Linked DNA regions of Homo sapiens: all the other regions are linked to region 1. Evidence: fine-mapped QTL for protein levels in blood plasma. Region 1 holds a variant in brackets. A gene starts in each other region. All regions are shown on their forward strands.

Evidence for each region. PIP is the posterior inclusion probability: the model's chance that the variant is causal. The UK Biobank Pharma Proteomics Project read protein levels with antibody pairs (Olink). The fine-mapping took linkage between variants from a reference panel, not from the people measured, so its PIPs are less certain.
Region 2: CD48 starts here. The variant in region 1 is fine-mapped to the plasma level of the CD48 protein (UK Biobank, PIP above 0.99).
Region 3: it holds the start of CD79B, and the variant in region 1 is fine-mapped to the plasma level of the CD79B protein (UK Biobank, PIP above 0.99).
Region 4: it holds the start of FCRL5, and the variant in region 1 is fine-mapped to the plasma level of the FCRL5 protein (UK Biobank, PIP above 0.99).

Annotation. Positions count from the first base shown.
Region 1 is chr13:28,028,358-28,036,637 of GRCh38, forward strand. It overlaps FLT3 (fms related receptor tyrosine kinase 3), which reads right to left. Exons shown (of 24, transcript NM_004119.3): 11 at 7,578-7,686; 12 at 7,138-7,316; 13 at 5,944-6,050; 14 at 5,725-5,857; 15 at 5,530-5,634. Among named protein-coding and RNA genes, the nearest start is that of URAD, 44 kb to the left of the region's middle. The variant T/C (reference allele first, on the strand shown) is at 1,513.
Region 2 is chr1:160,710,502-160,718,781 of GRCh38, forward strand. It overlaps CD48 (CD48 molecule), which reads right to left and starts at 1,321. Exons shown (of 4, transcript NM_001778.4): 1 at 1,181-1,321. The coding sequence starts at 1,262. RefSeq lists enhancers at 1,570-1,749, 2,290-2,349.
Region 3 is chr17:63,929,447-63,932,484 of GRCh38, forward strand. It overlaps CD79B (CD79b molecule), which reads right to left and starts at 2,885. Exons shown (of 6, transcript NM_000626.4): 1 at 2,749-2,885; 2 at 1,889-1,939; 3 at 628-939; 4 at 324-442; 5 at 1-29. The coding sequence starts at 2,815. RefSeq lists a silencer at 1,735-1,804 and enhancers at 2,502-2,891, 2,865-3,038.
Region 4 is chr1:157,548,197-157,556,476 of GRCh38, forward strand. FCRL5 (Fc receptor like 5) reads right to left here and starts at 4,319. Exons shown (of 17, transcript NM_031281.3): 1 at 4,136-4,319; 2 at 1,364-1,384. The coding sequence starts at 4,166.

The DNA.
Region 1 (8,280 bases):
TTTTTCTCAGCTCAGAGTCAATCTGCATTATTTATTTAAATTCAAAATTATGAGAGAAGCCAGGCATGGTGGGTCATGCCTGTAATCCCAGCACTTTGGGAGGCCGAGGTGGGTGGATCACTTGAGGTCAGAAGTTCAAGACTGGCCTGGCCAATATGGTGAAACCTCGTCTCTACTAAAAATACAAAAATTAGCCAGGCGTGGTGGCAGGCACCTGTAATCCCAGCTACTTGGGAGGATGAGGCAGGAGAATCGCTTGAATGTGGGAGGCAGAGGTTGCAATTAGCTGAGACTGCACCATTGCACTCCAGCCTGGGCAACAAGAGTGAAACTCCATCTTAAAATAAATAAATAAATAAACAAACAAACAATATCCTGTGTTTTAAGACAGAATTTCTCCTTTTTCTTTTTTTTTTTTCCTTTTCTTTCTTTCTTTTTTTTTGACACAGTATCTCACTCTGTCACCCAGGCTGGAGTGTAGTGACATGATCTCAGCTTACTGTAGCCTCTGCCTCCTGGGCTCAAGTGATCCTCCTACCTCAGCCCTCCAAGTTACTGGTACTACAAGCACAGGCCATCATGCCCAGCTAATTTTTATATTTTTTGTAGAGATGGGGTCTCACCATGTTGCCCAGGCTGGTCTTGAACTCCTAGATTCAAGCAATCCTCCCAACTCCGCCTCCCAAAGTGCTGGGAATACAGGCATGAGCCACCATGCCCAGCCTAAGGCAGAATTCAGACTGTAGTATAGGGCTGGGCGCAGTGGCTCACACCTGTAATCCCAACACTTTGGGAGGCCAAGGCGGGTGGATCACTTAAGGTCAGGAGTTGAAGACCAACCTGGCCAACATGGTGAAACCCTGTCTCTACTAAACATACAAAAAATTAGCCGGGCGTGCCGGTGCGTACCTGTAATTCCAGCTACTCAGGAGGATGAGGCAAAAGAATCCCTTGAACTGGGGAGGCAGAGGTTGCAGTGAGCCGAGATTGAGCCCCTGCACCACTCCAGCCTGGGTGACAGAGCGAGACTCTGTCTCAAAAACAAAACAAAACAAAACAAAACAAAGACTATAGTATAAATGTTGAATCTGGTAATGCACCTTTCAACAGGACTTTCCTCTACCTACCAAAATAAAAATCCTTACAGTTGGCCCTCAAAACAAACAAACAAAATAATAACACATGCTTTTCCTCCTCAGTACAAGTTAACAGAAGGGAGAAACGTCCTTTTTGTTTGTTTGTTTGAACTCTTGGATCTGTTGTAGTCAGAGAGAGATAACAGTGTCGTGAGCATGGTTGACTCTAGCCTGTGGCCCTCAGGTCTAGAACATTAGATTTGCCAGCAAGTCCAATGGGAGAAGGTCAAAGAGGACTAATTCCCACTATCAGGTGCTCAAGAGACCCATTAATTGACATTGAGAAATAAAACTGCCAAGCAGGCTAGAACATATTGGTTGGCCAATGCATTCTCTCTCTAGGGAAAATTCCAGATAGCTCAGCAAACTGTACTTA[T/C]AAGCTGACTTAGAAGCACAGTGTGAGGAAAGTCACTATGGAATCCAAGGGCTCCCGTCATTGCGGCTCATGTGCAGTTGGTCAGGGCAGCCCGGGCAGCCACAGGGGCAAGGGCAGGGTCTCTGGACTTCCCTCTCCAGGCTCCAGGCACCACCCCTCTGTGAACAGACTTTTTCTTCCAGATATAGTAACTCTTCTTTACATTCAGTGAAGATTTGGTTCGATTGCCAGGTTCCATTATTTTGTCCAGGAAGGCATCCTAACCTTTATAGTGGCTTCTCCGGTGCTGACATCCTCTATTTTGGTTTGGGCAAGCTCTCAGGGGTATCCTTGTTTCCAAGATTTTAGCTTGGGGGTGGGATTTCCTGTGGGCACTGGGACCCCCTAATACATCATGTCTTCAGCTTCACGCTGGACAGGGATTCGGGGCTTTACTTGTTCATGTCCTATTCCTCATGGCTAAAATAATATCTTACATTTTTTAGCATGCTTAGCTTCTTCTAAGCATTTTCATGTACCATTACCTCTTTCATTCAGTCATTCAACAAGTATTTATTGAGTGCCTACTCTGTAAGAGCCAATGTCCTAGACACTGGGGAATGAAGGAAAAACAAGACACAACCCTTGTCTTCCTGGATCTTAGAGTCTCCTGGAGAAGGCAGAGAAGTAAATAAGCCATGACAATACAGTGCCATAAATGCAATACGGCAGGCAAGACGTGGGTCCCCGCGCCTCTAATCCCAACATCTTGGGAGGCTGAGACAAGCGGGAGAATTGCTGGTACCCAGAAGTTCAAGAAAGGCCCGGGCAAAATAGCAAGAGCTTGTCTCTACTTAAAAATAAAATAAAGTAAAAATACATAAATAAATAAAATAAAATAAAATAAAAATTAGCTGGGCTTGGTGGTGCCTGCATGTAGTTCCAGTTACTGGAAAGGCTGCAGACCATCACTTGAGCCCAGGACTTGAAGCTTGCCGTGAGCTATGATGACTTCACTGCACTCCAGCCTGGGTGACAGAGTGAGACCCTATCTCAAAAAAAGAAAAAAGAAAGAAAAAGAAAAAATGCAACGTTGGGCTGGGCACGGTGGCTCATGCCTGTAATCCCAGCACTTTGGGAGGCTGAGACAGGCGGATCACGAGGTCAGGAGATCAAGACCATCCTGGCTAACACGGTGAAACTCTGTCTCTACTAAAAATACAAAAAAATTTAGCCGGGCGTGGTGGTGGGTGCCTGTAGTCCCAGCTGCTAGGGAGGCTGAGGCAGGAGAATGGCGTGAACCCAGGAGGCGGAGCTTACAGTGAGCTGAGATGGTGCCACTGCACTCCAGCCTGGGCGACAGAGTGAGACTCCGTCTCAAAAAAAGAAGAAAAAATGCAACGTGGCAAAGGAGTGCAGGGGTACTGTAGGGTCAAAAGGGATAGCTACCTTAGCCTTGGAGGGGTGGAGAAAGGAGCATTCAATGTCTAAACTGAGTCCTGAAGAAAAATGGGAGCTGGCCAGGTGACTCATGGTGGAAGGGGAGGAGAACAGTGCTGAGGGTTGTGAAAGAGTGGGCAAAGGTCGAGAAAGGAGAGAGCACAGCACCACAGACACAGACCCTGCCCTCATGAGGCACAGGGGCTACTGGACAGATGGGACAACAATTGGATGTTAAAAAATGTCATGACAAAGGTGATGGATTCTACGGGGGAAAGCCTGCAGAGAGCTAATGTCGCACATTGCAAGGGCCTCAATATTGTCTGTGGTGTGAGACAGAGGAAGTGGTGTTTAAGCTGAGATCTGAGGGGGCAGTGGGAGATACTTACATGAAAGGGGAAGGGGAAGCAGAAGGATCCACTTGTGCAAAGGCCCCACAGTGGGTGGGAGGACAGTGCTGGGGGAACTGAAAGAAGGCCAGCGCTCTGGGGTGCCGAGAGCAAGAGGTGGGGAGGCAGCGGTGGCCCAGCCATGCGGGTGGTGGAGGAAATGTGAAGTAGGAAAGCCATTTGATCTGCTTAGCCTTTCGCCACTGTCACTTGGACCTCAGTATGGAGAAGCCAAAGGGAGGCAAGAGTGGATACAGGAACCTGCTTTGGAAGCTTTTGTCCAGGAGAGAGCCTTGAACTAGAGTGGTGGTCATAGAGATGGAGGGACGAGGATGGAATCAAGAGACACTAATCGGAAACCTGATAGGATTAGCTCACAGGGTGTTAGAAAGAGGAAGGTGTCAAGGAAAAGTCACGGGTTTCTAGTGTGCCCAACTATATAGAATGTGGTTATTTATTCACTGGCATTCATTACCAGTCACAGAGAGGACTGCTGGTGCAGGGCCAGGGTTAGGGGAATTCACCTTGCATACACTGTGTTAAAGGGACCTTTGAGACATCCAAACATTTAACATATGAACCTGAAGCTCCGAAAGGAGACGCAAGCATGAGGGCCCTTGGTGTATGGGAGGACATCACGGGTGTAGTGGGGATGGACTGTGTTGAGTGTGTGGAGCGAAAACGCAAGGCGGTCCAGGAGCAAGCCCACAGGGATGCCCCATAAAAAGCTGGATGGAGCCTGGGCAACATGGCGAAGCCCCATCTCTACCAAAAATACAAAAATTAGCCAGGCATGGTGGCGCATGCCTGTAGTCCCCCCTACTCAGGGGCCTGAAGTGGGAGGATGGCTTGAGCCTGGGAAGTGGAGGTTGCAGTGAGCTGAGATCACACCACTGCACTCCAGCCTGGGCAACAGAGCAAGGCTGTGTTTCAAAATCAGCCACAACAACAAAAGCTGGATGGAAGAAGATGAGCCCACAAAGGACTGAGTTTCAAAATCAGCCACAACAACAAAAGCTGGATGGAAGAAGATGAGCCCACAAAGGACTGAGAAGGGCAGAGGGGTGGGAGGAAAACCAGAATATGGTGACACAAAACCCAAAGAAAGAAAGCTTCTGGATGGAGAGAAGAATCAACAGCATCAATTCATGCTGAACAATCAAGTAATGAGGACTGAAAAATATCCATTAGGCTTGGTTTGGTTTGAAGTCACTGTTGACCTTAGCAAGAGAGCCAGCTGGAGATGCTTTTGCTGGGTCAGCGGTGGTAACGGTGAGGCCAGCAATGGGGCTGGACGCCAGATCGGAATGGATGGAGCAACGAAGTGAGGATACAAAGGGCCCCAGTTTTCTCTCCTACCCAGAGTCTGTTTCAACCCACACCTGTAATCCCAGCACTTTAGGAGGCCAAGGCAGCCTCACTTGAGCCAGGAGTTTGCAACCATCCTGGGCAATATGGTGAGACACCGTATCTACAAAAAAAAAAAAAAATTAGCCAATTGTCTTGGCACACTCCTGTGAGGCTGAGGTGAGAGCATTGCTAGAGCCAAGGAGGTCGAGGCTGCAGTGAGCTATGATCACAGCACTCTAGCCTGGGTAACAGAGCAAGATCCTGTCTCTAAAAATAAAACAACACAAATGTAAGAAAGAACTTCTGCCTGTGGCAACTGTATCCCCAAATATCAAAGCCTATAAAAACTAAATAGGCCTGGCACAGTGGCTCACGCCTGTAATCCCAACACTTTGGGAGGCCGAGGCGGGCAGATAGTTTGAGCTCAGGAGTCCCAGATCAGCCTAGGCAACATGGTGAAACCCCGTCTCTACCAAAAATAAAAAACTTAGCTGAGCGTGGTGGTGCACGCCTGTAGCCCCAGCTGCTGAGGAGCCTGAGCCCAGGGGGTGGAGGCTGCAGTGAGCCATGATCACACTACTGTACTCCAGCCTAGGTGACAGAGTGAGACCCTGTCTCAAAAAAATAAAAGAAAATAAAAATAAACAAAGAGAGAAGTGGAAGAAGAGGTGGAGTTTTGTATTTATGACTTGAATTTTGTATTCATGACTGGGTTGACACCCCAATCCACTCCATTTTTAGCCTTGAAACATGGCAAACAGTAACCATTAAAAGGATGGAAAAGAGAAGAAGGCATGGGTGGGAAACTGTGCCTCCCATTTTTGTGCATCTTTGTTGCTGTCCTTCCACTATACTGTACCTTTCAGCATTTTGACGGCAACCTGGATTGAGACTCCTGTTTTGCTAATTCCATAAGCTGTTGCGTTCATCACTTTTCCAAAAGCACCTGATCCTAGTACCTTCCCTGCAAAGACAAATGGTGAGTACGTGCATTTTAAAGATTTTCCAATGGAAAAGAAATGCTGCAGAAACATTTGGCACATTCCATTCTTACCAAACTCTAAATTTTCTCTTGGAAACTCCCATTTGAGATCATATTCATATTCTCTGAAATCAACGTAGAAGTACTCATTATCTGAGGAGCCGGTCACCTGTACCATCTGTAGCTGGCTTTCATACCTAAATTGCTTCAGAGATGAAATGATGAGTCAGTTAGGAATAGGCAGTTCTGCAGATAGAGGAAAGAATAATGAATTTTTACCTTTGCTTTTACCTTTTTGTACTTGTGACAAATTAGCAGGGTTAAAACGACAATGAAGAGGAGACAAACACCAATTGTTGCATAGAATGAGATGTTGTCTTGGATGAAAGGGAAGGGGCCTGCAACAAAAGAGTGTCACTCAGCGATGAAACAGAATTCCTGTGTGACATTATAAATAGTGGACAACTCATTATAATCTCTCACATCCTGTTTCAGTAATAATCATTTTCAGTCCTAACAACCACTCTACATATACTCTACTCCCCACAGACAATCAGGCAATGTCCCTGTAAAGGATACATTTCCTCCCTAGAAAATTGCGGATTATTCTCAATCCATTCTTTAAAACCATTTACTAGGGTAAATTTACAAGAATTACATCTGGTCCAGGCACGATGGCTCACGCCTGTAGTCCCAGCACTTTGGGAGGCCAAGATGGGAGGATCACTTGAGTCCAAGAATTAGACACCAGCCCAGGCAACACAGTGAAATCCCGTCTCTAAAAAAATTCAAAAATTAGCTGGGCGTGGTGGCAGGTGCCTGTAATCCCAGCTGCTCGGGAGGCTGAGGCAGGAGAATCGCTTGAACCCTGGCAGAGGTGAGCCAAGATCACGCCACTGCACTGCAGCCTGGGTGACAGAGCGAGTCTCCATCTCAAAAAAAAAAATGCATGGATTTAAACCTACAGGATGTACAAGTCAGAGAAAAAAGAAGTTCATATCCCTTTTATGAAGGTCGCACATGAAAGTGGAGAAGTCAGTTTTGTGAGGTTGGTGATCCTAACTACTAGGGTGGGCAGCCAGGTTTCACAACTGTTTAACTTAGGAGGGCTCTAAAAAGCAAACCAAAAATTATAAAACAGCAAGCTGAGGGCAAATAAGGAGGCTAATCAAAAGGGAAAATGACAGAGACTCCAAGTGACAAAATCTGTTTCTCTAGAGTTAGATCTTTCCATGGAGATTCACCACACTGGGAGTTTCTGCTTCTCCCGGTCACTGTGACACATGAGTCACAAGGGCACAGGGAGGACTCCGCCCCAACCTGTGAAACAGTCTCTCTGGGGATTCTTGCCTGACTCAAGAAACCTTTTCTCACACACTGACCCTATACTCTCCTGTAAAATTCCCCAAGTAAAAGTCAGCGATGGGGACTAACTTCTAGTGGGGAATTCCTGATGGTGGAATATCACAAGAACAACTGTTGTACCTGGAGAGTTTAAAAGGATCGTCTCACAAGATGTGCCAAGGGAATTGTATGCACAGCACTTGACCAGGAACCCTTTTATGGCTTCACTCATGTTTAGAGTACTGCTCGACACCCACTGTCCAAACACTTTTCTGTTAGCCTTTCTATTCCAGACTCCTTCTGTGATCTCTTCTGTGCAGCTGAAAAAAAAAATAGCAAAGAATTTAGACAGGTGAGCTGTCATCAGATTGGAAGTTAGGATTTCTGCAGCGAGTTCTAAAAGAGATTCATCCAGTATAAGTTATCAGAAACAGTCTATGACTATTGAGAGTTATGGTTGATTGAGAAGGTTAGCATTTTAAATATTTCATCATTTCCTCTTAAACTGTATTCATGAAAGAGTCAATAGGTCAGAGAGTTTTATGTTCTTCCATTATAAGAGGCATCAATGTCCTTATTACTTGGGAGACTTGTCTGAACACTTCTTCCAGGTCCAAGATGGTAATGGGTATCCATCCGAGAAACAGGACGCCTGACTTGCCGATGCTTCTGCGAGCACTTGAGGTTTCCCTATAGAAAAGAACGTGTGAAATAAGCTCACTGGCTGGGCATAGTGGTTCACTCCTATAATACCAATACTTTGTGAAGCCAAGGTGGGAGGATCACTTGGGCCAAGGAGTTCAAGACCAGCCTGGGCAACACAGCAAGACCCTGTCTCTGAAAATAATAAAATAAAATAAGCTCTTGGAGTATGGTACTTTCTGGAAATAGTTTCAAAGTTGCCTACAGTACAGGCTACCCATTTACTCCAGGGCAGTTTGTGCTTCTGGGAGGATTTCTCATTTAGGATGCCTCCAGACCTCTGGTAATTTCTTCTTTCCTCCTTGCCATGCAACCTCCTTGCCATGCAACCTCTCTGCTACACACCATTTTTCCATTGCCAGCCTCTCCCTGGAGAGAGCTGAGGTACAGACCTCCACCTGTTTGCATGCCTTAAAATGATTCTTAGCTTCAGGAGAAGTTGGACTTCTCATTGTTTTATAAGCCAAAGAAATGAAAATTATTAAAAACAAATAAATGAGAGATAAAATGACTTTCAGCCTTTCCTTAACATGACCTTTCAAAATACTAAAATCAATAAAGTCATAACACTAATTCATATTC
Region 2 (8,280 bases), not on the chromosome of region 1:
CCAAGATGAAGCCTAGAAAAGAAGTCAGAGAAAGGTCAACTGTCAGGATGTTTTCAGTATGCCTAGAGAAAGTCCTAAAATATTCCAATTCTCATTGGCAACCCTGCTTTTCCCAATAGTTAGATGAATACTTCACATCAGCCCCCAATCCCAAGGTCATACCAATGTCCTATGCATTGAGTCAGGCCCACAGAACCTATATAGCCGTAGACTCACACAGTCATGAACCAAAGGACTCTACCTGAGAGGTAGAATATGTGAGAGACCGATCCTCCACACATTCTACCTCATCTCCCCAAAAGTTACAAACTATCATCATTTTATGCCACAGTGTGACTACCACATGTTTGTTGATTTTTACTGTTTTACTCAGAGTGGTGAGCATTAAAGCCCTTTAAATTAAAAAGACTTGAGTATTTACTTGGGGGAATAGCAAGAAAGTCAAAGGTTTCACTGCTGTTTCTCAGCTGGCATAAGAAGAGAGGTACTGGATGAAGAAAGAGGGTGAGGCAGCTCTAACAGGAGAAGGAAAGTTAGCTCAGCCCTTGGTCACACACCGGGGACCGAACAGGCTGTGGCAGAGGAATGGACCTTAACTCTTAGCAATCAGATGTGTTAAGGTTCCTTTGATGCTGAAGCACTTCCAGCCTCTTCTCAGACCCTCATTCAGAGACCCCAGACAGCAATCCTTTCCAAGCTTTTCTTCCTATAATTTTGATCTATCTTTTCTTTGGGTCAATGACAATATCATTTACCTTGGCTCAGGATGCAACACCTCACATATACAGAGGTCTCAAAGAATGCCTAAGGGAGTACAGTGTGTCTGAGCATAAAATGCAGCAGCTGTCAGTGTAGAGCTTCTTCTTATTCAAAATGAAAAAACAAACACTTTTCCACAACTTCATGGACCACCAACCACGGGACAAAATATGAGGAGCCTACTTCTCTTGCTCCCCAGGTTCCTGTTTTGATCACATCCCCGTGGGAAAGGAGATGAAGCTCCATTCATCAGTGCTAAGAAAGGCTCCCCAACCATGCCATGGCCATGCTATTGGAATGGAAATACCTGCTTTCCAGACACCAGATCTGGCTTCTAGGGTTGAACTACATCCCGTCTCCCCTTTCCCAACTGACCATGCCTTCAGTGCACAATCACAGATACACAGTTGGTGGAAAGTACCTTGAATGCTGGTCACCAGGAGTGACAGAGGCAGCAGTAGCAATTCCAGAGCCAGACACGAATCCCAACCTCTGGAGCACATGCTTCCTTCCAGAACTTCCCAGCAACGCAGGAGACAGTTGAGAGCCTGGCTAGAAAAAGGCCGGGGCTAAAAACGGAACTTACCAAACAGGGTTAGAGAGAAAAAAAAAAAAACCACTGAGATTTTCTCTCCACCCAGCACACTTGTGTGGGGCCCCAGAAACCAGAAACCGGAGGTCTTGTAAATTTTTTTATCTAAGAGCATCACGGAAACTGAGAACAATTTTGTTTGAAGGTACATGAGTGCTTTTTTGTAGGGGGAAGATTCATAGCTTCTACTGTACTCTCAGGGGGGCCAGTACTCAGAAAAGAATAAGGGACCCTGATAGAGAATGTCTGCTTTTCGTTCCCAGGCAGGAATCCCTCTGATTAATTCAGGGGCTAAGACATAGGAGCTTCCCAGTCAAGCCTGGGTAGGTGTCATTCAGAGCCTGAAGTCTGGGAAATCAGACCCACGTAGCCTTTGTGCTGCATATCTTACCCCCAGCACCACCCTCTGCTCTTCTTCCTTTATGATAATTCACTATTTGAAGTTTGACATCAGCCTATCCACTGAACATCAGAAAAAAAGTAAGATTACTTGGCCCAAAAGAATGGATTTCCCACCCTTGTAGTCTGTATTAGTCTGTTCTCACACTGCTAATAAAGACATACCCCAGACTGGGTAATTTATAAAGGAAAGAGAGGGGTTTTGTTTTGTTTTGTTTGTTTTGGTTTTTTTTTTTTTTGAGATGCAGTCTCACTCTGTAGCCCAGACTGGAGTGCAGCAGTGCAATCTCAGCTCACTGCAACCTCCACCTGACAGGTTCAAGCAACTCTCCTGCCTCAGCCTCCTACATAGCTGGGATTACAGGCAAGCACCACCATGCCCAGCTAATTTTTGTATTTTTAGTAGGGTTTCACCATGTTGGCCCGGCTGGTCTTGAACTCCTGACCTCAAGTGATCCACCTGCCTCAGCCTCCCAAAGTGCTGGGATTATAGGCATGGGCCTGTGCCTGGCCAGGAAAGTGGTTAAATTGACTTCTAGTTCAGCATGGCTTGGGAAGCCTCAGGAAACCTACAATCATGGTGCAAGGGGAAGCCAATACGTCCTTCTTCACACGGTGGCAGGAAAGAGAAGCACTGAGCAGCAATGGGGAAAGCCCCTTCCTTATGAAACCATCAGATCTAGTGAGAACTCACTATCACGAGAACAGCATGATGGTAACTGCTCGTATGATTAACTTACTTCCTACTGGGTTGCTCCCATGATATGTGGGGATTATGGGAACTACAATTCAAGATGAGATTTGGAAGGGAACACAGCCAAATCATATCATGTCTAGGAAATTTCAAGCTCATTCCTATTGAATGTAAATTAGTTATTTGCCCACCCAGGACCCACAGGCAAGCCACAGTTCCTGATATAACATATTTGTAATCACTTTTTAATTGGGGACATTTCTGATTCTCAACATGGAGATGAACAATAAAATGTCTGCTCTTCTCAGTCCTCAAACCTGAAGGACATTATGTTAAGTGAAATAAGTCATGCACAGAAAGATAAAAAACCACGTTCCCAATCATATATGGAAGCTTAAAAAATGAGCTCATAGAAGTAGAGAGTAAAATTGTGGTTATCAGAGGCTGGGAAGGGTAGAGGGAAGTGGAGGATGGGAAGAAGTTGGTTAATAGATACAAAGTTACAGCTAGAGAAGAGGAATAAGTTCCAGCATCCTGTAGCACTATGGAGTGAATACAGTTAAGAATAATTTAATGTATATGTTCAAAAAGCTAGAAGAGAGGATTTGGAATGTTCCCAACACAAAGAAATGATCAATGTTTGAGGTGATAGGTATCCTAATTGCTTTGATTTGATCATCACACATTGAATACATGTATCAAAATATTACTCTGTATCCCATAAATATGTATAATTATTATATGTCAACTAAAAATAAAAGGGAAAAAAACATAAAAGTGAAAAGAAAGAACCCTGCAAATAAAATTTGAAACAGCACCAGAATCAAATTCCTCTTGGTCAAATTGTTACACTTTGGAACTGTGTGTTATATTTTTCCTATAAATTGATTTAACCTTAGGATACGACCCTGCTCCTTCAGCAAGAAAAGATAACATTGTATTAGATTTTTAAAAGAGACCCTGTAAATTAATGTTACATTCTCTTTTTTGGGGGGAGGGGGGCACAGGCTCCCACTCTGTCACCCAGTCTGGAGTACAGTGACCACTATGCATGGCTATTTTTTTAAAATTTTTTGTAGAGATGAGGTCTCACCATGTTGCCCAGGCCAGTCTTGAACTCCTGAGCCATAGGATCCACACTCAGTCAGTGGCAGGACGGGGAGTGCTGTGACCTGCTTCCACCTTGGGCACCAGTGTCTAAATGAAGGGAACACAGTGGCACTAAGAAACTCGGAGATGCCAGCAACTGCGGAGCCCTAAGGGGTGTTACAGCTTTGCTTGGGGAATCCCAAGGCCTGAGACCCCAAGAAATGTTACAGCTCTCTCTCTCGTTCCTGCCACCTGCAGCTCAGCAAATGAGGGCACCTCACAGCTCTTGTTCAGTCCCACTGCCTGCAGCTCAGCAAATGGGGGCATGTCACAGCTCTTATTTAGTCTTGCTGCCTGCAGTTCAGTGAATGGGGGTGTGTCACAGCTCTCACTTGGTCCCAGTGCCCACAGCTCAGCAAATACGGGTATGTTACAGCTTGTTCCTGCCACCTGCAGCTCAGCAAATGAGGGCACCTCACAGCTCTTGTTCAGTCCCACTGCCTGCAGCTCAGCAAATGGGGGCATGTCACAGCTCTTATTTAGTCTTGCTGCCTGCAGTTCAGTGAATGGGGGTGTGTCACAGCTCTCACTTGGTCCCAGTGCCCACAGCTCAGCAAATACGGGTATGTTACAGCTTGTTCCTGCCACCTGCAGCTCAGCAGGTCCTGGGTTCTTGTCCTGCAACCAAGAGGAATAAAGCATGCAGACAAAGGAGAGTGAGTAGGTCAGAGAATAATTTTATTGAGTGACAGAAGGAAAGCTCTCAGCAAAGAGGGGACCAGACAGTGGGTAGACCACTGTGTGAGAGGGGCCCCAAAACAGGTAGCCCTCTGTGAGGCTGAGTCTGGGGTTTTCATCGGCTCAGATTTGTCCATAGGCAGGCCTGGAAAAAGCACCATTCGATTAGCTAAAAGGTATCAAGGAAGTTCTCACTCTGGTTGTGGACTCTACCCAGAACTGGCAGCCCAGTTTTCAGGCTTTAAACTGTCTTTGTCTTGAAAGTCTAGTTTCACCAGGGACCCTTTTCTATCTGTCCAGGAATTTGTCTGTCTCCTGTCGCTATCACTTTGGGAGGCCGAGGAGGGCAGATTGCCTGAGCTCAGGAGTTTGAGAGCAGCCTGGGCAACATGGCAAAACCCCATCTCTACTAAAAGTAAAAATAAAAATAAATGTTAAAATACCTCCTTTGAATGTTGTTGTGAAAAGTTGAAGAAAGGAAAGAACTTTTATCTGAAGAATGTGAGTCCTTCAAATTATCAGAGAGACATTTAAATGAGACAGAAATCACATTTTACTTCCCCCTACTCCACCTTTGGGCTATGTATTCACCTCTTAAAACTACTTGCTATTGCTGCAAGTAACCATAAATTAATCTAATAATGCTGCACTGGACATATAACCCACACCTTACAGCTTAACAATATGTAACCAATCACTAATTAATGTTATTTCTGCAAACCAATGAGAATTCCAAAAAAAAAACTTTGTATCACTTTTTTTGCCTTTAAAAACCTGCTTGTAACAAAGGCTGAGCAGAGCTCAAAACCAATTTTACTTGGGTCTGAGTCTTCCAGGCAGCTGTCCTCCCTTTGGCTCAAGTAAAGTCTTCAAATCATATTTTGTGTTTCAGCCTCTTTCTTTTAGATTGACAAGTAAACAGCTCTATAATTCTCAACAGTCTGCTTAGATGTGAATTAATAGCCATGGGATATAGGCTGATGTTAAAACAAAGGATGAAATATAAACTTAAGCCAAGGAATCTTCCTCCTTTTGCATGGTAACAGCGGGCACTGAAGTACTATGGGTGCCCATTCTGAGGTTCAGGACTAGCTAGTTAGGCTTCTGCATAGATTCAAAAACAAGTCTGAGAGAAGTGACCAATAAAGGCTCAAAAGCCCTCTCCCTGCCCTAAGTGAATCAGCTGTTCTTGCACCAAAGCCCTGGTTGCAGAAATCCCTGAAGTTTGGGCATACCCAGAGGTGGGGCTGCAAAGACCCTAGAAGATGAAGTACAGGTCAACAATCCTCATGATGTGAATTAAAATACACACTCTTCTCAGTATCTAATCTGGTGGGCACTTGACCTACTGCTTGACTTTGACAAAGTGATAGTAATGACAGAAGCTATTATTTTCTGTGTATCTACTAAGTCAAGTACTTGCCAGGACCTTTGCCTATATTATCTCATTTAATCCTCCAACATTTTACAGAAGGATCAGGTTTCAAAAACAAAAACAACAACAAAACAACAAAATAATAATCCTCCAACATTCACATGAGGATATTTATAAACACTATTCTTATTTTACGGAAGAGATAACTGAGGTTCAGACAAGTCAAATGGCTTGCCCAAGGGCATTTTGCTAATTAGAACCAGAATCAAAATTCAAATCTACGTCTGTCTGATGCTCCAGCTGGCATGCCTAACTACTATGCACACAGACTCTGGGGTTATCAAGGTTCTGGGCATCAGGGGATCTGCAATATGCCTACAAGAAATGGAGAACACATAGGAAACACTATGAGAGTCATGCCAATGTGAAATTAGGAACTCAGAGAATATAGGGCCTTGAGTAGCCCAAAAATGTTCAAGGAGGGGTATGGTATTGAGCTGAGGATGGAAGACAGACCCCTGGTAGGTTAAGCAGGGCCTTGAATGCCACAACAGGCACAGCTTTGCTAGTGCCTGGAGAGTGAGAGAAAGTGAAGTCATTCCAATAAATTTTCCCCAGAAACAATGAGAGCAAAGATAGGAACAGGGTCGATCTCCCAGAAGATAGAATTGATGAGAACAGGTGGCTAATGTTACAGTAGGTAGTCAGGCAGACGTGAGCAGGGCAGGAGAGAGCCTCCCACACCACCAGCAATGACAGGCGACCATCAGGTGATGGTCAGACAATTGTTAATGTGCCTCTCTAAAATAATAATTGGTCGCAGCCAGCACCAGGGCATGGTGGCTCATGCCTACAATCCCAACACTTCGGGAGGCCAAGGCAGATGGATTGCTTAAGAACAGGAGTTTCAGACTAGCCTGACCAACATGGTGAAACCCCGTCTCTGCTAAAAATACAAAAACTAGCCAGACGTGATGGTGAGCACTTGTAATCCCAGCTATTCAAGAGGCTGAAGCATCAGAATCACTTGAACCCAGGAGGCAGAGGTTGCAGTGAGCCAAGATCATGCCACTGCACTCCAGCCTGGGCAACAGAGAGAGACTCTGTCTCAAAGAAAAAAGAAAGAAGAGAAGAAGAACGCCTCAGGTGAGCATGCATACAACTCCAGTGAACACACTGAATGTGTGGCCCCTCCCAAGTACTAGCAGGCCACTGCGCATGCAGACAGCCCACCCCAAGGAAAGAATCAGGGAGAAGGGACACTAACGTACTTTGGTTCCATGACTCAGATTTGTTCTCTGGTTGTTAGAGATCTCTACACCTCGCCTTCTTTGGCTGGAGTCATTCAACCCACATATGTGGTTTTCTTCTCCCTTTTGCTCTCCTGCTTACTAACCAACCCCTAAAACAATTCCTCTCTGCCGTCCTGGACAGGAGGCTTGCAAGAGTGATAGGGCTAAAGCCTGAGACTGTGCAATTTCTGGGGTTTCCTCTGCTTTTTCAACTAAAATTGGCTCTTTCCCCAAAACCTGCGATGCCTATTCTCCTGCTTTCTCTGGATGTATTCTGAAATGGCCTTGCGCACCCACTGAACCGTCCACCTCGGGGGCAATTTGCCTTTTCTCTGTTTTCATTTTTCATGCCATGTAACTTCTTAGGCACACACTCCCAGTTGCTCTTGTGCCCGTGGCTCTTGCTGTGGCCCATGGCTCTTGCTGTGTTTGTGTAGCAGCAAAGACATGGGCTCCCTTCTGGATATCCCTTGAGATTTACATTTGTTCTTACCCTACCAGCTCAGATGACCTCCAACCCTTTCCCTGTCTGCTAGCACATTGCCAGGACAGATACTAATGGGAACCTCAGCTCTGCCAATTCCTTATGACTTATCATATGCTTTTTATCCCCATTATGTCCCAGGGCCAAATTTTCTGGTGCCTTCTGAAGCAGTTTGTCCACCTGCGTAGGACCTCATTCTGTGGTCCTTTAAGAACCCTGCCTATGTGATTTTTTTGAGTTAGCACCCCTTTGGGAGGAGGGAAAATTCTTCCTTTGCCATTTGTGAGTTTTTACTCCAAGCCTCAAGTCCTCCAGAGGTTACTACTTTATGTTAAGAGGGCAAATAAAGGTTGTCCTCTCAAATCCAAAGGCTGCTGTTTTTGTGGGAACATGAAGCCTTTCCGTGAGTATCTCCCTCACTTCCTCCCTCTTCCTCGGTAGCCTCCATTTCTCTAATCACTTCCACACCCTTCACAACATTCATCAAAGCTTTCAAGTTCCTATTCAAACAAAGGGAAGTCCAGCTACTTGCTGACTAGCTGAAAAACAGGCTTCTGGGAGGCTGAGGCAGGAGAATTGCTTGAACCCGGGAGGTGGAGGTTGCAGTGAGCCGAGATCATGCCAGGCACTCCAGCCTGGATGACAGAGCAAGACTGTGTCTCAAACAAACAAACAAACAACAAAACAAAACAAAACAAAAAAAGTCTTCTTATCTACTTAAAAAATGTGGGAAATGGGAATCTGAGAAAAGAGAGAATCATTTTGTTGCTAGAATGCTCCAAGCAAGAGTCACTATAAGGTCATGGAGACAAGGATATAGGCTGGCCCAAGGCCACAGGGGTAAGAGAGTCATAGGAC
Region 3 (3,038 bases), not on the chromosome of region 1:
TCTTCCTCCATGCCAGCCTTGCTGTCATCCTGGGGGCGGAGAGGGATGGAGATCAGAGTGTTAGTGTCCCCCAGCCCCATCCCCTGCTGGGCCAGGCTGGGGAGGGCCAGGGAGAGGGGTGAGGGGTCAGGAGTGAGGTGCATTCTGCAAGAACAGCTGAATGAAGGAAGGAAGGAAGGAATGATTGAATTGGTGAGCCAGTGGGGACAGGCTGGACCAAGAAGGCCACAACGAGAGCTGGGGAGATGGAGACCCTGCATATGCCTGGCCTATGCGGTGGCCTCCTCTGCGGTCCCCCAAGGCTTCCCCCGTCCCCTGATCACCTTGTCCAGCAGCAGGAAGATAGGCACGATGATGAAGAGGATGATCAGCAGCGTCTGGATCATGATGATACCATCCTTCAGCGTGTTCCTCTGCTTCAGCTGTGCCAAGGTGCTGAATCCTGCGGGGACAGGGGTGGGGTTGTGAGCCTGGGCCACAGTCCACCTTTTAGGCCTACAAGGGCAGCTCCCTCAGGTCCCAGTGGCTCTCCTGAGTGCTCTAGGGCCATGACCATCACCACAAGAGGCAGGCCGGGCTAGGGTGGGGCGGACAGCTACAGGAGCGTCCCAGCCACCTGGCACACACCCATGACTCGCAGCTCTGTGCCGCAGCCCTGGTAGACCTCCGAGGTGTTGTTGCACTTCTGCTGACAGAAGTAGATGCCATTGTCCTCAAACCGGATGCCTTGGATGGTGAGGGTGGCGAGAGATTCGTTCTGGGACTCTTCCATGCGGCCCTTTTCCAGCTTCAGCTGCTGGGGATTCTCGTCCATCTCCTGCTTCCAGAGCCAGCTCACATTGCCGGAGGCGCTGTTCATGTAGCAGTGCATTTTCACCGTGAAGCCCCGTTTCCTGGCTATGAAACGTGGGCTCTGCCAGATCCGCGAACAAGCACTACCTGTGGGTGCCAAGGCCAGGCTCAGCATTCCGCTTGGCATCTTCCTGAGTGCCAGCCCCAGCAGCAGGCCCCTGCCCTGGCTGGCACAGACTCCCTGGGCTTAGTCCTTGCTTCTCAGGGTGTGGGACAGGCAGGAGGCTGAGGTTGGAGTTGGGAAGCAGAGCCACGTGAGAGGCTGAGCCACATGAGAAGCCACGGCCAAGCTCTCAGACTCCACCTCTTCCCGACTGCCCCACCTCCCCTTCGATTTTCCTTTGGAAGAGCCCTGGGACCTTGCCATTCCTTCCTATGCCCATTACAACAGCCTGACCCAGGCCACACCCCCAGGACCTGGAGGCCCACAGGCCTGGCCCCTCCTTTCACTGGGCTGCCCTGCACAGGCTTGAAATCCTCAGTCTCCCCCGTTCCTCCAGGGATAAAGGCCAAATTCCTAGTCTGTCAACTGAGACCTTCCTCAGTCGACCCCCTCCCTGCATGACTTCCCTCTATCATCCCCCTCTTCCCTCCTGCAGGGACTGGGTCCACTTCTTGTTCCAGAACCCTCTTTCCAGCTTCGACTGCCTTGTTCTTAGTGAGCACTGCCCGGGAATCCCTGAGCCCCTCACATAGTGACCCTGCACTGGAGGGCTCACCCGAGACTCAGCCAGATTCCCAGCTAGACAGGCCCGGGCCTGAGTCCTAGAGGAACCCCCAGGCTCCCTTGCTATGACCCAGAGTTTAGCCCAGCCCTTCAGTGGCCAAGGCTGGAGGGCATGTGTCTGATGAGGATGACAGTGGGCTGGGGGTGGGGCTCAGAGGAGATCCTAAGGAGGCCTGGGGATGGGAATCCTGGATGGGGAGATCAGGCAAGGGTGGGAAGGCGGACCGCCCCCAGGACAGGGACCATAGTCGGACACAGGACATAGTCGCACACAACTTGCCCTCAGAAGCGGCAGGCGAGGCTACTGACCTTTGGGATTCCGGTACCGGTCCTCCGATCTGGCTGCTGGTACTGGCTCAGCTGCTGGGTGGGAGGAAGTGGGCGGGGCCAGTCAGGGCCTCCTCTGGCCTGGGCTGCCCCACCCCTGCATGCCCTCTATGTTCCCGGAGCTACTTCCTCCTTCCATGACAGCAGCTTCAAGACCCCTCGGTCCTCCCTGCCCCCAGTACTTGGGAGACAGATATGGGGTGGGGGTACCGGAAGCCCTGCCCCCAGCCCCCTTTCTGCCTTTGACCCTCATGGTGGCTTTGAGCAGGCATCTGAATGAGACAGGAGGGACAGGGAAATCTCAGTATTTTGAGAGGCCAAGACAGGAGGATCGCTTGGGTCCAGGAGTTTGAGACCAGCCTGGGCAACATAGGGACACCCTGTCTCTCTTTTTTTTTTTTTTTTTAAAGAGAGACAGGAAGAAAGTCACAGCCCGGAGGATCTTTCACCTCCCAGAGGAGGGGACCACATTTGGATCTTGCATCTTCCAGGGTCCGGTTGGGACAGCCTCTCCCCTCCCGACCCCCAGGCACCGCCCTCAGCCTCTCTTCCTCCTGAGCCTAGTTCTTCCACGGTCCTGGTTGCTAACTCTGGTTTGCTCCTCATGCCCAGCTCAGCCTGATGCTCTCCAGGCAGGAGAGGAACTGGGGCCACAGGCTCCTGAGCCCATCACCACGTGCAGCTGACACCCACAGACCCAGGCCCCAGGGCCATGAGAGGGAGACAGGCGGTAAAGAGTGAGAGACAGAGGAGGAGGGTGGAGCAAGCAGGAGGCAGAGCCGCAGGGCCCAGACAGCTGGAGATGAGAGCAAACCCCACAGGCCTCGTCGTGGGTTCTGTACCTGAGAGCAGCAGCAGCAACGCCACCATCCAGTGGCTGGGCACAGGAGACAACGCCAGCCTGGCCATGGTCACCGCTCTGTCCCCGACCCCAAACCCGTGACAACGTCCGAGGCTCCTTGGAGGAAAACGTGTAACTGCACCGGCTGCAGCCTGTCCCCTCCCCGCCTCTTCCTCACCAGGCCCCTTCCTGCCATGCAAATTGGGACCCAGGGGAGGCACCAGCTCTCCGGGGACCCTGGGGGAGGGCAGGCTTTTGTCAGCTGGGCCGCTAAGGTTTGGCGGTCGCCCA
Region 4 (8,280 bases), not on the chromosome of region 1:
CCAGGGAGGGTCAGAGGGTGACCATGAAGCTATCCTGGCCCTTGGACGATGCCAAAAAACCAGGCATCACTTTGAAATCCCTGCTGACCTCAGCAAGAAAACAGGAGATATTGTTTTAGGTCTAACATTTAAGTCTTTAAGAAAACCTAGGCAATACCATTCAGGACATAGGCATGGGCAAGGACTTCATGTCTAAAACACCAAAAGCAATGGCAACAAAAGCCAAAATTGACAAATGGGATCTAATTAAACTAAAGAACTTCTGCACAGCAAAAGAAACTACCATCAGAGTGAACAGGCAACCTACAGAATGGGAGAAAAGTTTTGCAATCTACTCATTTGACAAAGGGCTAATATCCAGAATCTACAATGAACTCAAACAAATTTACAAGAAAAATTCAAACAACCCCATCAAAAAGTGGGTGAAGGATATGAACAGACACTTCTCAAAAGAAGACATTTATGCAGCCAAAAGACACATGAGAAAATGCTCATCATCACTGGCCATCAGAGAAATGCAAATCAAAACCACAATGAGATACCATATCACACCAGTTAGAATGGCAATTATTAAAAAGTCAGGAAACAACAGGTGCTGGAGAGGATGTGGAGAAATAGGAACACTTTTACACTGTTGGTGGGAGTGTAAACTAGTTCAACCATTGTGGAAGTCAGTGTGGCGATTCCTCAGGGATCTAGAAGCAGAAATACCATTTGACCCAGCCATCCCATTACCAGGTATATAACCAATGGACTACAAATCATGCTGCTATAAAGGCACATGCACACGTATGTTTACTGCGGCACTATTCACAGTAGCAAAGACTTGGAACCAACCCAAATGTCCAACAATGATAGACTGGATCAAGGAAATGTGGCACATATACACCATGGAATACTATGCAGCCATAAAAAATGATGAGTTCATGTCCTTTGTAGGGACATGGATGAAGCTGGAAACTGTCATTCTCAGCAAACTATTGCAAGGACAAAAAACCAAACACCGCATGTTCTCACTCATAGGTGGGAATTGAACAATGAGAACACTTGGACACAGGAAGGGGAACATCACACTCCAGGGCCTGTTGTGGGGTGGGGGGAGGGGGGAGGGATAGCATTAGGAGATATACCTAATGTTAAATGACGAGTTAGTGGGTGCAGCGCACCAACATGGCACATGTATACATATATAACAAACCTGCACGTTGTGCACATGTACCCTAAAACTTAAAGTATAATAAAAAAAAGGAAAGAAAACAGGAGATATTGGAGATCTCAGGCAGCCATCACAAATGTTTTCTATTTATTAGGAAGAGACACTCTTAACCAGAGACGCTGAAGAGCCAAAGACAGGAGAACTCACCAAACTGTCCACTGACAGGAGCTGCAAAAAAATAAGAGCCAGAGATGAGCACAGAACCATGATTATTTTGTTTTAAGAAGATAATTCCCTTTTTTACCCATGCATGTATTACTTGTCCCTTTAAAAAATTCATTTAAAAACTCTAATAATTATTCATCAAATGTATATATATACACATAAATATACATATATATACATATATATATGGCATGGTATTTGGACTTCTACAATGAATTTTAAAAATGGTATCTGCCATCAAGAAGTTGACTAGTGGAAAAACAGAAACACGATTTAAAATAATATAACACAGGGTGTAAGTGCAATAACAGAAATACACATGGGGTATGTTGGGGGCAGAAGGGCCACTAGCCCAGTGTGTAGGATATATGTGTGTGTGTAGAGTGTGTGTTTGTGTGTACATGTGTTGAACAGGATGGGTGGATCCTTGAAGGTACCTGAAGGAGATGATACTTCACAAAACTGTGAGTGAGAACATGAGTCTGCAGGTGGATGTTAGCATTTGTGTGTGGTAAGAGGCGATTTCTACCTTTCAAGGTAGAAAGGGCACAGAAGTGGAGAAATGACATTGGTGCTCAGGAACTGGGAGTGTTGGGGGAAATAAGACCAGAGAAGCATGCAGGGCCTGAGTAAGTGGTTCTAATTTTATTATAAAAGTGATAAGGAGTCATGGAATGGTTTCAAGGAGGAGATTGACAAGGTTAGAATTTCAGACTTTGATGGAGCACTCTGTCAGTGGACAGAATTTAATGGGACAATATGAAGCAGGGAGACTGATTAGAAGGCAGGGCAAGGAAATGGACATGAATTAAGCCTCCCTTGGGCACCAGACTCCAGGCTATACTCTTTTCATGAGATCATTGAATCCAAGGGCTCATTATCATCATGCCTAATTTTTAAACAATCAACTGATGCTCAGATTATTTAGACCTGATGCTCAGCCCAAGAGATGGTAATGTGTAATTTTTGTCAGAGTATTTATCCAAATTATCTTCATTATCTGCTTGTTTATTTTCCCTTCTCTATAATGCAAGCTCTATGAGACCTAGGACTTTCCTTATGTTCACCATATATCCTCCAGGACCTATAACGGTGAATGGCATATAAAAGATATTCCTTTAATGTTCACTAAATATATTTGTGTTGTATAATGAATTAATTAAAGAACTAGGTTAATAATATAGGAATAGAAGGATAGAGATTTGAGAAATGGGTAATGAAGAGAGAGAGGACACAAAACTGGCAGGTTTATCAATTGAGTAGGTATTCTGCATATGGGTTGATTTATTTATTCAACAGATTTTTGGAATGCCAATCATACTCCAGAGCAAGGCAATAGAAATCCAGGAGTGTGTGAGAGACAAATCATCCCTGTCCACATGAGGCTATTGGAGACTTATCCAAACTTAAGTGTTTTACTGAGAACAACAAATTATTCACCATTCACCTGAATATTTTGGCTTCCTTCATCTTTGCATTGTTTTAAATGAAGCTAATATTTTTGTGAGTGGTTTCTATATGGTCTGCATTTACGTAGGTTATTTCATATAACCATGTCAATAATCCTGTGAGGTAAGCACTAGGATTAACTGCATTTTGTAGACCAGGAATCTGGTAGCCAGTAGGTGGCAAGATGAAGTTTGAACCTAGATCCTGTTTGACCCCAGAGCCCATGTTATAAACTTTGCCCTCTCATGCTCAGGACCTGGCCATTACCCACATTGTGTGGGGCCACACTGAGATGTATTCCTACTTCAGGAATTATAGTCCATGCACCTTCCAACTGTGAGGTCCTCTTTTCTTATATCACGCCTGCTCCATTTCTGCTCCTCTAGCTCCTACTCACCTCTAAGTTTCATGAAGTCTTTACTAGCTATTTTGAATACAGTTTATTATCTGCCTACAGCATTCATTGGTAACTTTGCCTGGACAATTATTTAACTGGGAGCTTGTTGCATAGCTGCTTGAAAGTACATTGGCCTTGCTGGGAGCCCTTCTATGTCATGACTTTCCAGAACATAGACGTAGTGTCTCCTATGGACTCTAATTGCTCAGCACCTGTGCATAGATATTACTAAACACATTTGCTGAACAAATAAATAAACATATTTAATTATAATATTTAACCTTTAGTAAAAATCAACCAGTTCGCACATATGAGTTGATAGAGACTTACGTACACCCACAGGGACAAAGAGAAAGTCATATGCTTTAGATTTATCCTTGCTTTGTCCACCTACGCCTCTGCGACCTCCTCCACCCCATGTTCTTAATCAGCCAATTGCTGCAGTGGTTTGCAATTATGTACAAGAGAAAGACCTGTCTTTCCCGTTAGAAACCTTGCCTCTTATGCTGGGGACCAGGATCTGGCCTTGTCATACAAGGAATAAATACATCTCCTCTGCAGAGAGGAGAGTGGGCTCTTCTATGAGTAAGACAATATGAACAAACAAACATGAAACATTCTCTGGACTTTAAGAAGTACTTTTTAAAGAAAAAAATAAATGAAATTTTAATTGTTGTGGTTATTGTGGTTTCCTACTCTGTAAGATTGAAAATTCCTTCCAGCTGTGGCCATTTTCTTCAGCCTCAAGAGAAAGCCCTGAGCTACAGAGTAAAGTTCAAAAATACAGTCTCCTAATGTAGGAGAGAGTCTCTCAGCAGGGGCTGAGCCCCAAGAAAGGACCAGGCCTGCGGTGGAGAGAGAAGCTGTCCCGATCCCACCCAGGGCCCATGGTGAGCCCTTTTACTCACCCAGGACCAGTAATATCACCCACAGCAGCATGAAGACCTGGACCACCAAGGGCTGAGATCAAAAGAGAAGTTTCCTCAATTCCAAAACAGGTTTGGACTTGATCTTACAGTCAGGACACTGCACACCAGCTCCAAGGAGCACATCTGAGAAGCTGTGCTCTCAAAAAGAGCAGAATGCATTAGTGAATTGAAAAAAGGAAGTGGGAGTACCCGTCTTCAGCTGCTAATCACAGTTTCCTACCCGATGATCAAAGAAAAAAAAAAGTTAAGGTTTTAAAAAATCAAATACCCTTGACCCTACATTTTTGCTATTGGGAAATTACCCTGAAGGAAGTATCTGAAGAGAGTACTATAAGAACGTTTATTGTAGCATTCATTATTGCCTAAACACTGGAAACAAAACAAAAAACCATGATATGGGGACTGTTTAAGAATATTCTGATTCATCCGTATGGTGACAAGCAATCATTAAAGAATAAGGTAAATCTGAACATGCCAAGAAGGGAAGACCACCTTGTTTGATGTGAAGAGAATAAAAGTGAGATATAGATTGGTTTTGTAGTATTATCCCATTGGGTAAATATAAAAAATAGGATATATGTGTACATCAACTCTTTTAAGTATACTTTCTTCTTTTCCTGGAAAGTACACACAAAAATATTGATTATGTTTGAGGAGCAATAGGTGGGAAGAACACAATTTATTTTATGTATTTCTGTACCGTTTGATTTTTTAAAAAATTACCAGGTGAATGTATAGCTCTTATGATTTTCTAAAAGTCAAGTTTCCATCCTGGTATACTGGTCAACAGAGGTTCCTAAGACATTAGCTGCCACGAGGAGTGCCAGTTTCTTTCTTTCAAATATTTTCTCACCCTTTCTCTCTGGGCCCATACCTTGGTCTTCCTAAGGGGGCATTTAATTTTATATCTACAAATGCACATCACCTTAGGTATATTATGTCACATCTGACCCACTGCACCCTGAGGCAAGAAAACCATACAGGGGTTACAGGGGTGAATAGAGATTAAGAGGAGAACTTCAAAGGGAACACAGAATCTTTACCTACTTTTGGTGCTAAAACAAATAGTGCTGCTATGAACATTCTTGTATACATTTATTGGGGCATATGCGCACATAATTCTGTTGGGTATATATCTGGGAGTGGAAGTCCTGGCTCATAAGGTATGCATATATTCAGTTTAGGAAGTATTACCAAATTATTTTCCAAAGTGGTTGTGCCAATTCCCACCACACCCACCAACCAATGTATGAGAGTTATCATTGTTCTAAAATTCTTGCTGATATTGGTATTGTCATCTAGTAAAATCTGGCCGTTCTGCTAGAATTATCTCAATGTGGTTTTAATTTGTATGTCTCTGGTGAATTTGAGAATGAGCATTTTTTCATAGTCTAATTGGTGATGTAGATATCCTTTTTATGTGCAATCTCTGTTCAAATATTTCCTCATTTTTCTCTTAACTTTCAGTCTTTCTTTTCCTGTTTTGTAGTTATTTTAAACCCTGAATATAAACCTTTTGTTGGATATATGTATTGCAAATGTCTTCCTTCAATCTGTGGCTTGCTTCTTTGCTCATTGATAGTGCCTTTTGATGAACAACCATTCTAACTTTGACATAGTCCAGTTTATCAGTCTTCTCCTTTGTGGTTAGAGATTTTTGCATCCCTTCTAAGAAAGTTAGTCTACTCCAAGATCATAAAGATACTCTCCCAGGTTATCTTCTAGAAACTTTATTTTTTACCATTTATTTTATATTTATAAGAGCATTGCAATTGATTTTTGTGTACAGTTTGAGTGTTTATATTCACTTTTAACTTAAATACAGATAATTTATCCTGCCCTATTTATTGAAAGTTGATTTTTTCCACAGTACAGTGCAATTTCACCTTTGTTATAAAACAAAAAGCCATGTAGGTCTATTTTTGGAAACTCCTTTCTTGTCCATTAGTCTATTTTGTCTATCCTCATGCCAATACCACACTCTTCTAATTATTGTGGCTTTATAATAACTCTTATTAACTGATAGTTTAAGTCATAAAATGCTGTTCTTCTTCAAAATTGTTATGGCTATTTTTGGCTTTTTGAATTTTTCTATACATTTAAAAATCACCTTGTCAATTCCTGTCCCCTCTCTCCCCAAAAGCCTAGTAGATTTTTAATAACTGGGATTGCATTGGATTTATAAGTTAATTTGTATAAATTAGAAAAGATTTAGTCTCCCAATCCATAAACATACAATATCCCCTCATTTATTTAGGTTAACTTGACATTCTTTCAGTAATTTTCTATAGCTTTGCCTCTGGAAAGTATATCTTTTGGTAGGTTTATCCTTAGGTTATTGATATGTTTTTTATGATATTGTAAGTGACATCATTAGATTTTTTTCTAAATGTATATTGGTATATAGAAATATAATACTTTTTTGTTTTACTGACCATTATTTTTATTTTTTTGAGACAGAGTTTTGCTCTTGTCCCCCAGGCTGGAGTGCACTGGTGCGATCTTGGCTCATTGCAACCTCCACCTCCCAGGTTCAAGCGATTCTCCTGCCTTAGCGTCCCAAGTAGCTGGGATTATAGGTGTCTGCCACCATGCCCAGCTAATTTTTGTATTTTTAGTAGAGATGAGGTTTCACCATGTTGGCCAGGCTGGTCTCAAACTCCTGACCTCAAGTTATCTGCCCGCCTTGGCCTCCAAAAGTGCTAGGATTACAAGCGTGAGCCACCATGCCCGGCCTTACTGACCTTTTAATATCTACTAAAATTGCGGAATTTACTTATTAATTTTAATAGTTTATCTTTAGGTTATTTTAGATTTCATGCAAACACAATCATATAATGATAGTTTTATTCATTATTTTTAATACTTAAACTTCCTTTTCTCTCACTTATTGCACTGACTAGGAACTCAAACATGATACTAAAGAGAAGTGGTAATATCAGGTGTCCTGTCTTAGTCTCACAGAAAAAGCTCTTAATATTTCAATATTAAATATAATATTTTCTGTAATTTTTTTTGGTGAATACTATGTATCAGATTAAATACCTTTCCTTATATTTCTAATTTGCTAAGAAATTTTCCTTTTTTCCTAAATAATGGATGCTGTTTCAGTAAATACCTTTATTGCCTCTATTAATATGATCATATGATTATTTACTTTTATTGTTAATATGATGAATTACATGGATGATTATAAATGTAAAATCAACTGTGCATTCCAACTTGGCCATGATGTGTTATCTTTTTTATATATTCTTGAATTTGACTTATAAATTTGCTGTGCTTTTTAGCATTTGTGTTCATGAGGAAGATGGACCAATTTTCTTTCTTGATGAATTTTAGTAACAAAATTATATTGGTCTCATAAGCAAGCTCCTTCTTTTTCTATTTTCGTGAAGAGTTTGTGTACGACTGATGTTATTTCTTCCTTAAATGTTTGGAAGATTTTACTGGTAAAGGTACTTACTTAGGCTTATGAAAAAATGCTCACCATCACTGGCCATCAGAGAAATGCAAATCAAAACCACAATGAGATATCATCTCACACCAGTTAGAATGGCAATCATTAAAAAGTCAGGAAACAACACGTGCTGGAGAGGATGTGGAGAAATAGGAACACTTTTACACTGTTGGTGGGAGTGTAAACTAGTTCAACCATTGTGGAAGTCAGTGTGGCGATTCCTCAGGAATCTGGAACTAGAAATACCATTTGACCCAGCCATCCCATTACTGGGTATATACCCAAAGGACTATAAATCATGCTGCTATAAAGGCACATGCACACGTATGTTTACTGCGGCATTATTCACAATAGCAAAGACTTGGAACCAACCCAAATGTCCAACAATGATAGACTGGATTAAGAAAATGTGGCACGTGTACACCATGGAATACTATGCAGCCATAAAAAATGAGTTCATGTCCTTTGTAGGGACACGGATGAAATTGGAAATCATCATTCTCAGTAAACTATGGCAAGAACAAAAAACCAAACACCACATATTCTCACTCATAGGTGGGAATTGAACAATGAGAACACATGGACACAGGAAGGGGAACATCACACTCTGGGGACTGTTGTGGGGTGGGGGGAGGGGGGAGGGATAGCATTGGGAGATATACCT